Linked DNA regions of Homo sapiens: region 1 is reported to be linked to region 2. The links are microRNA targets in miRTarBase. Many come from high-throughput screens and were not tested one by one. Region 2 holds a microRNA gene; the other region holds the end of a gene's coding sequence.
The links. Region 2 holds the annotated microRNA hsa-miR-345-3p (GCCCUGAACGAGGGGUCUGGAG, at 2,951-2,972, opposite strand). A microRNA usually pairs through its seed, bases 2 to 8, with sites in the 3' UTR of a target mRNA and lowers its output. Matches are read on the target gene's strand: a 7mer-m8 pairs with bases 2 to 8, a 7mer-A1 pairs with bases 2 to 7 and ends in A, and an 8mer does both.

Region 1: miRTarBase lists DLL4 as a target of hsa-miR-345-3p. Seed matches in the 3' UTR shown: 7mer-m8 at 3,700-3,706.

What each region holds. Positions count from the first base shown.
Region 1 is chr15:40,937,776-40,942,019 of GRCh38, reverse strand. DLL4 (delta like canonical Notch ligand 4) reads right to left here. Exons shown (of 11, transcript NM_019074.4): 11 at 2,947-3,991. The coding sequence ends at 3,986. Among named protein-coding and RNA genes, the nearest start is that of DLL4, 11 kb to the right of the region's middle. RefSeq lists a silencer at 1-370 and enhancers at 1,661-1,720, 3,003-3,819.
Region 2 is chr14:100,306,640-100,310,883 of GRCh38, reverse strand. It overlaps MIR345 (microRNA 345), which reads right to left and starts at 3,025; the gene lies at 2,928-3,025. RefSeq lists enhancers at 3,460-3,629, 3,660-3,729 and silencers at 3,820-3,889, 3,980-4,244.

The DNA of each region.
Region 1 (4,244 bases), not on the chromosome of region 2:
GCGGGGCCCGCGCGGTCCAGCCCGCCTGCCCGCCCGCGGCTCCGCTTCCCGCGGCCGCGGCCGGAGCGAGATTGGGGAGGCAGGAGGCGGAGCCGAGCGGGCGGGGGAGCCTCCGAGAAGCTCGCGGCCTTCGGCGGCTTCCCGGCCCGGGAAGTGAGCCGGGTCGGCTGCCGCAAACAGGAAGTCGGGCTGTAACAAAGAGCGCGGGGGGCGGGGAGCCGCGGGAGCTGCGGGGCACGGCGGCGGCAGGTGGAGGGCTGACCCGGGCGGGCAGGCGCACCTGCCCCTTCCGCCGCCGCGCAGGCCTCGGGGCGCCCTGGGCGCGAGGGAGGGCGCAGCCGCCCAGGGAAGGCCGCTGGGACCTCGCAGGCGCATCCCCGCCCGAGGAAGGGACAGTCACAGTTCCCCCAGTGAATCATTTCCACCCCCTTCCCGGAATGCAGCAAGCCACGTGGGGCGGAGGGCTGGGGCCGCTGATCCTGTGGATCCAGAGGGAGAGGCTGGGAGAGCTGCGGCGAGGGAAGCTACGGAGAGCTCTGTGGGTCCCAGTCAAGAGATGGAGCATCCACACCACCGTGGTTTAGTCTGGTGGCCTTTTCTAGCCTGGGATGGGGGAGGTGGGAGCCACTGTCCTTTTTTCCCTACCCCCTGACCAGGCTGACCCTGGCCCTGAGGCAGGAGAGGAACCCTGGCTGAGCAAGCAGGATAAAGTCATTTCTCCTTCTGCACAACCCCTCCCTGACTCTACCAGCCGAGGGGCCCTGGAAAAGCAGCTGTCCTCAGGTCACCGTGGGGTCAAATTGATTCTCCAGGCAGGGCACTGGCTCCAGGCTGTTAAGGAACTACTAAACTCCGAATTCCCTGGTGAAATACCCATGCAAATTAAAGGTGGGCATTTGCTAACCTGTGGAAGGCACCTCACAGTGAGTCTAGAACCATTATCTGGCCTCCTTTCTGCCAAGCCTAGGAAATCTCCTGTACCCCAGGACACTCAAGTGATCATGAGGGTCTTGGGTGCCTTACCTATCAGAAGGGGCTGGACTCTCAGGAAATCCTGGGGAGAAGGGGCTTCCTCCGCTGTGGCCTGTTTACACCCCAAGTGCCTGCCCAGCTTGTGGGATGTTGTTAAAGGTGGAGCCTGGCATGAGCTGCAGGTCGGAGCTGCCCAGACCAAGTTCCCCACGGGTCCCCACTTTCCCCAGAAAGCCAGCTTTTTTGGTGGGCTCTCCAGCTCCCCATCTAGTGCATCAGAGCAGCTGTGAGCTTTGCCAGCCAACTCCTCTCCGGGGCTCTTCTCTGCGAGTCTGGCAGCCTGTGCAGCCCGTCACAGCCTGGTGTTGTGGACGTGCAGGGCTGCGGGTGTCCTACCTGTCCCCCACATGGGAGCCTCGTCATCTTGCCTTCGTGTCCCAGCCCAGTTCCCCCCTCCCGTACACCCCTAGGGCCTGGGAGCTGCTTTCCTGTTTCATTTTGGGCAGGAAGAGTGAGGTCGTGTTGTTCTTCCCCCTGCTGCCGGCTCAGGCTGTGGGAACGGTTCCCTGAATGCTTTCCTGTTTGATACCCTGTGTGTACAGTGAAGGGAACAGGGAGCGATGAGTGAGGCGTGGAGCGTGTGCGTGCTCCTGTGTCTCTGGCATAAGCACCCAGGTCTGGGGTGGGCATGGTGTGTCTGTGTCAAGGAGAGAGGAAAAAAGGGAGGGCAAGTAGCACTCCAAACCCTTGGACTCCATTAGGAGCAGGGCATCTAATGGGTCTATTTTGCTTTACTGTGGACAGGCTGAGAGCTGGGAGCATCTGCTCAGCTTTTTGTCAGTGGCTCATTTTTTCATAATTTGCTCTCCATGGAGGAGCATATTTTCGGCTATAGAGAGGGCTGTGGCACCCTAGGGACTATCCTGTGCCTTAGAGGAAGCTAGGCATGAAACTCCTAGTGAGACTGGAAACCCCCTCATTAGTGCCTCAGCAAGAGAAACCTGGACTCAGGGAAGGCTACCTCCTCCTCCCCTTTCTCCCTGTCTTTGCAGTCTTCAATAAATTCTAGCAGCCCTGGGCAGACAAGGTGCTCAGACTCTCAGCGCTCTTGTCTGCTACAAAGAGGAAAAACAAGGCAAACCTCCCTCCTGCCCTGTCTCCTGAGACCTGTACCCTGCTGGGGCTAAGAAAAGAGCCAGGCACCCTGCAACAGCAGGAGGAAGGACTCAGATGTCACCAGGGTGCAGAGGCCCTATCCCATCCACCGACGAGAGAATGCTTTTTTTTTTTTTTTTTTTTTTGAGATGGAGTCTCGCTCTGTCGCCCAGGCTGGAGTGCAGTTGCGCTATCTTGGCTCACTGCAAGCTCCACCTCCTGGGTTCATGCCATTCTCCTGCCTCAGCCTCCCGAGTAGCTGGGACTACAGGCACCCGCCACCACACTGGGCTAATTTTTTGTATTTTTAGTAGAGACGGGGTTTCACCCTATTAGCCAGGATGGTCTCGATCTCTTGACCTCGTGATCTGCCCGCCTTGACCTCCCAAAGTGCTGGGATTATAGGCGTGAGCCACCGCTCCCGGCCAAGAGAATCCTTTTGAATATGAGAAAAACAGGCAGAACTAGGGAGCCCCATAAGCTTTTTCAGGCTTGAAGAGAGGAAGGAAGAAGTGATTCAGGTCAGGAGGAACATGCCCCAGGAATGGTGAGGGCATAAAGAGGGAAGGGGGCACTGTACCAACTCAAAGTCAGCAGGCAAGGAAGGCTGGCTGAGGCTGGGGACTAGATGGGTGAGGCTCGGCTCCTCAACGAATGGAAGAAGACAAGGGCCTGGGGTACGACATGCCAAATCCAAGTGTCTGCACGGGTCCCAGGGGTTCCGGCGGGGCACATGGCAGCAGTAGAAGGGAGTTTAGAGTTTTTTGGGTGAGAGGGCAGGGGTACCATCACAAAGACAGGACCCAATAAGTAATAAACTCCTGTACACATCTGTTTCATATTATAAATACACATTATATACAAAATAATGTTATAAAATGTAGAAAGGTCAGTGCTTCTGATTCTTAAATTATTGAAATACTAGACTCCAAAATAAACTACAAAAAAAAAAAAAAAAACAAAATAAAAACTCATATTATTGATTTCTGAAGACCAGCTTTGAGGGTGGTCTGGGGCAGTAGTGGACCAGAGCCCAGGCTCGAGGTTGTGGAGATGGGCTTGAGGGAGGAAAGGGCCCAGGCGGCCGCAGCACCTGATTTCCCCCTCAGTGGAATTTCCAACACACTGCCCTGAGTGCCCCAGTTAGGCCTGGCACCCTTGGCTGGTGGGAGGGGCAGGCCCTCTGCCTGTCTGCTTACAGAAGCCCAGGGCCAGAGGGTGGTGGAAGCCGGGTAGACGGACATTCTTGCCCAAAGGGCCTAGACCAGAGAGCCAGGCCTGCATACAGTAGTTGGAGGCATGGGGCAGAAAGCACTCCCCTCCCTCGAGCACTCACCTCACCTCCAGGGCAAACCCCAGCAAGAGACGCACCCAGTGGTTTTCCAGCCCACAGGAGGCCCTGCCCTCATTGGCCCCCTCTCTCCTTTCTGATTTGGGCCCAACTGTCGCCGTGGAGCCTGGGCCAAAGGCACTTTTGGAAACACGGATGCCAGTGGAGGCCACAGCAGCTCCGGGCCCCATGGGGCTACTGCCACTCTCTCTGGAAAACAGGCCGGAGCCCCGGAAGGAGCCCCCTGAAGGCCACTACTGGCAGGGCAGTGCCCAGTGGCATCTCTCTTCTCTTCTGTTCCTCTGGTTGGTGCAGCTGCCAATCTGATGCCAGACAGACACCCAAAGGTGTGGAAGGGTATTGCATCTCTTGGCAAGTTCACAGTCTGTCCGGTTCCTGCCATTCCCTCCTCCTCCTGAGAGCAGCACGTTGCATATGAAAAACGTCCCATCCAGGATGCAATGTAAACAATGCAGAAGGAAGGTCCAGCCGCGGGGCTGAGCAGGGATGTCCAGGTAGGCTCCTGCCTTATACCTGGGAGCAAGCGGAAGGCAGGGAAACAGGTTACCCTGGGCATGCGCACTCCCTCCAGGCCCTCCCTGGGCCTCCCTGGGAGAAGGCGATGGGGCAGGCAGGGGCTAAGGGCAGGTGGGGCAGTCCTCCCCAGTCTTCGGCCCAACACACACACGGGCCTGGGAGCTTGCGCTCATGAGGTCAATGGAGGAAGCCAGTGGGAAGGGGCAGGAAGGGCACAAGGGGTGAGGGGCCCCCTCACCCATCAGAGGCT
Region 2 (4,244 bases):
AAGCATTGAGCAGGAACCCAAATCCTGTTTGTTTATTTATTTATTTATTTTGAGACAGAGTCTCCCTCTGTTGCCAGGCTGGAGGGCAGTGGCGTGATCTCGGCTCACTGCAACCTCTGACTCCCAGGTTCAAGCAATTCTCCTGCCTCAGCCTCCCAATTAGCTGGGATTACAGGCATGCACCACCACGCCCAGCTGATTTTTGTATTTTTTTTTTTTTTGAGATGGAGTCTTACTCTTGTCACCCAGGCTGGAGTGCAGTGGCAAGATCTCGGCTCACTGCAACCTCCGCCACCTGAGTTCAAGCGATTCTCCTGCCTCAGCCTCCCGAGTCGGTGGGATTACAGGTGCCTGCCACCGCGCCTAATTTTTTTGTATTTTTAGCAGAGACGGGGTTTCAGCATCTTGGCCAGGCTGGTCTTGAACTCCTGACCTCATGATCCACCCGCCTCGGCCTCCCAAAGTGCTGGGATTACAGGCGTGAGCCACCACGCCCAGCCAGAACCCAAGTTCTAGAGGTAACGACGCCAGGCCAGGCAGAAGCTTCCAACATGGCAAAACCCCATCTCTACTAAAAATACAGAAAATTGGCCAGGCATGGTGTCGGGTGCCTGTAATCCCAGGCTACTAGGCCCCTTCCCAAGGACCCCAGGGACTCAGAGGAGCTGCCAGTGCCAAGGCCCTGAGAGGGGCACAAGCTTAGAGGGTGGGCTCCAATAAGAGGGCCAGAGGGCATGAAAGGTGGGAGGTGAGGTTGTAGTCTGGTTACCCTGGGCCTCACACCATGGCACTGAGCTCGAGTATTCCAATATGAGACAGGAGGCGACTGACAGCGCGCCGGCCCCACCAATCTTTGGCCAGGAGTTTGCAACCTGCTCAGGTGGCTCCCATCCCGAGTCTACACCTGTGCTTGCTGCCAGAGCCCTTCTGTGCACTCTCCCCTGCACAGCCTAACTCCTGGGAAGGTCTACACAGCTGGTGCCTCATCCTCTCCCCCTCAACTTGCCCTCTGGCAGCCTGAGTTGCAGCCACCCCCCCCAAGTCCTGGCCCAAACAGCTCCTGCAGGGGGTCATTCAGCTCCAAGATTCCAGGGTGGGGACAGAGACTTGCGTTTCCTTTTTACTTTCTGGCGTTTCTGATTTCTCCACACTGAACCTGTCTTGTGTGAGAATAAAAGCTGTACACAGGGAAAACTCCAACACACCCTTTCCAGTGAGCTGGCTTGACCCTCGGTGCCCCGTGACAGTCCCTCCGGCCTTGCTGTCCTGTGCTGGCCTTGGGTCTGCCCTGCCCCTTAAAAGGCTGGGGTCCTCAGGGCTGCACAGAGCCCTGCCTCCTCTGGGATGGGAGGTCCAGGGCTCTGTGGAACATGGGAGTTTGAGAAAGCACATTCTGTGCTGTAACCTTATCCTCAGGAAATGAAATAAAACAATAGACACTGAACCCAAGTGTCCAAGATGTAGGCATACGGATTCATTTACTTGGCACCAACTTTTTCACTCCTCCTTTCTGGTCTCTCCTCAGCCCTGACATGGAGGTCAGGGATTTGTGTCTGTCTTGTCCCCAACACAGGGCACAGGGCAGTGCGCCGACTGAGTGCATGATTCCCAGGCAGCAGGGAAACAGGGTGCTCAGGAAGATGTGGTTTTGCAAAGTTTAGTAACCCAGCAGCACACCCGTGTGGACGCATCCCTTTCCAGTGCCTGTCCTCACCCCCTCCCCAATGTCCCCCACCCAGTGTCAACTGTGCAGGCCCTGGGCACACCAAGATGAAGGGGACAGACCTGGGACCTGCCCTCAGGGTACTTCCAGCTGAAGGCAGCCCCCTGTCACCCACAAGGGAGCTGAGGCTCCCTTGGCGGGTCAGGTCAGGCAAATCTGTCCCAGAGCCCAGTCCTCCACTGTCCCCCACATGTTGACCTTAGTCCCCAAATCCAACAGCCCTCCCCCGACCACACACACACACCCAGAACCCTGCCCTCTCCTTGCAAAGTGCACAGCTAAGGGCCCGCACTCCTCATCTCCCAGGCCTGGCACGATCCCACTGCTGCCCTCACACGGCCTGCCTCAGCTCTCTCAACAAAGGACCCTCCCTGCAAGGAGGTTTTTCTTTTTGAAATAGGGTCTTGCTCTGTCATCCAGGCTGGTGCACAATGGTTCGATCATAGCTCACTGCAGCCTTGACCTCCTGGGCTCAAGCGACCCTCCTGCCTCGGCCTCCTGAGTAGCTAGGACTACAGGCCTGCAGGCATGCGCCACCACATCCTGCCGATTTTTTTTTTTTTTAGAGATGGGGCCTCACTATGTTGCCCAGGCTGGCCTCAAACTCCTGGCTTCAAGCGATCCTCCTGCCTCAGCCTCCCAAAGTGCCTGGATTACAGGCATGAGCCACTGAACCCAGCCTCAAGGAGGTTTCTGAAGCTCAACTATGGAATACCTACTGTTTACCAGGCTACTAGGCCCCTTCCCAAGGACCCCAGGGACTGACAGCTCAGTGCAACCTGCCCCAAGCATAATTTTCAAGGCATGTGCATTCTCTCAATAACAAAGCAAAACAGGTCATGCTTGTCTCCTTATCCGTTTCCATCATTTTCTCACTACTGCCACATGCTGTCAAGGTACTGGATTTCCCTCCCAAACCTCCTCAACCAGGAATGGATGTGCAGGGATTTGTGCTTTACCTCATGAGCCCTCCAGCATCCCAAGGACATCCTGTTCCTAAGGTAAGTGACTACATGTAGGTAGTCCAGTGTAATCACTGTGTCTGCAGGAGGCCTCCAGCCACCTGAGTAGCCCCACAGCCAGCTCCTGCCCTTTTGGGTCTGGGCTTCTCTTGGGGCCCCCATACCACTGCTTTTCTGGCCCATGGGCCACTCTCCCCCATCCGCACACCTGCCTCCCTGAGGCAACCAAGTGGGTCAGAGAGGCTGTCGATATTCAAACCCAGGCCTCCAGACCCCTCGTTCAGGGCCCACCAGCCATCACGAGCCCTGGACTAGGAGTCAGCAGACCTAGGGTTTGGGTCTCTGCTTAACATTCTACTTAGACTCTAAAAGGAAACTAACATGAGCACTGGGGACCCCTGCCCCTAGCACCAGGCTGCACTACTGACAACACCTACCTGTGTGTCCTAGTACCAAATACACAGAACCTTTCGACCTGCACCTCCAGGAGGTAGGTACCCACTGGAATTTGGATAAAAGAACCATGTGACCCTAAACCTGGAAACGTGGCACACGGTGTGGCCTTGCCTGCCTGCAGGCCCTAAAGAAGGAAGCTGGGCCCGGCCTAAGGCTGATCTGACTCCTACAGCGAAGAGAAAGCGCCTGGCCCGTCCCTGCTCCCAGGCTCCAACCTGACAGTCTGGACCTCCAGAGGCGCTGGGGAAGGGCTGGTGGGAAGTCACCGAATGGGACGCTCCACAGGGACCAGGGCAGTCCCTTGCCACTGCGAATGTCAGGGACTCCTGGGGGGCCGAGTCAGACTCGGCTCTCATTCATCCCCGCAGCCCATGGATACCCTGGTGACCCAGAGCCAAGCACCCTCCGACTTCAGCGCCTGAGCGCGGCCCCTACCGAGCCCCTCCGGTCTCGCCCCGTCCGGCCGCCGCTGACGGAGGCGCTGCGATCTGGCCCGACTCCACTCTGCAGCCCAGTCCAGGAACCTCCCTCTCTCCACAACCTTCCGCGGCTCCCGCGACCCGCAGTCCTCGGGAAGGAGCTGTGGCCCGAAGGCCTGCTGCGCCCTTTGCCCATGGCCCCTTTCCCTTTTAAGGTTCCCTGCTCTCCGCCCAAATCCCAGCCTCAGGCTCCGCAGGAAGCGCCCGTGCGCGTCCGACCCCCAGAACCCGGCGGGTTCGGCCAGGAGTCCGGAAGCCCCGGAGGCCACCGCCGCCGCGGGCGCGCAGGCGGGACGGGCAGAGGCTCCCCACGGGCGATTCCCGCTCGCGGAGTTTCGCAACTAGCGGCGTCCCAGTCTGCGGGCCTCGGAACGTCCCGGCGCTCCACGGCCGTTTTCGCGGCAGGGTCCGCACGGCACAGACTAGGGCGCTGAGGTTCTGCGGCGGCGCCGGACTCCGAACCCAGGGTCCGGTTCCCGACCCGGTCCAGACCAGAGCCACCCCGCGTACTCCGGGTGGGGGAGTCCTCGGCTCAACCCCGCCACCCCGCGCGTCCCCTCCCGCCGGACCTGCGCACCCAGCGCGCTCTTTGTCTGAGGCGTCCCCGCGCCCCGCCCGCGCGCC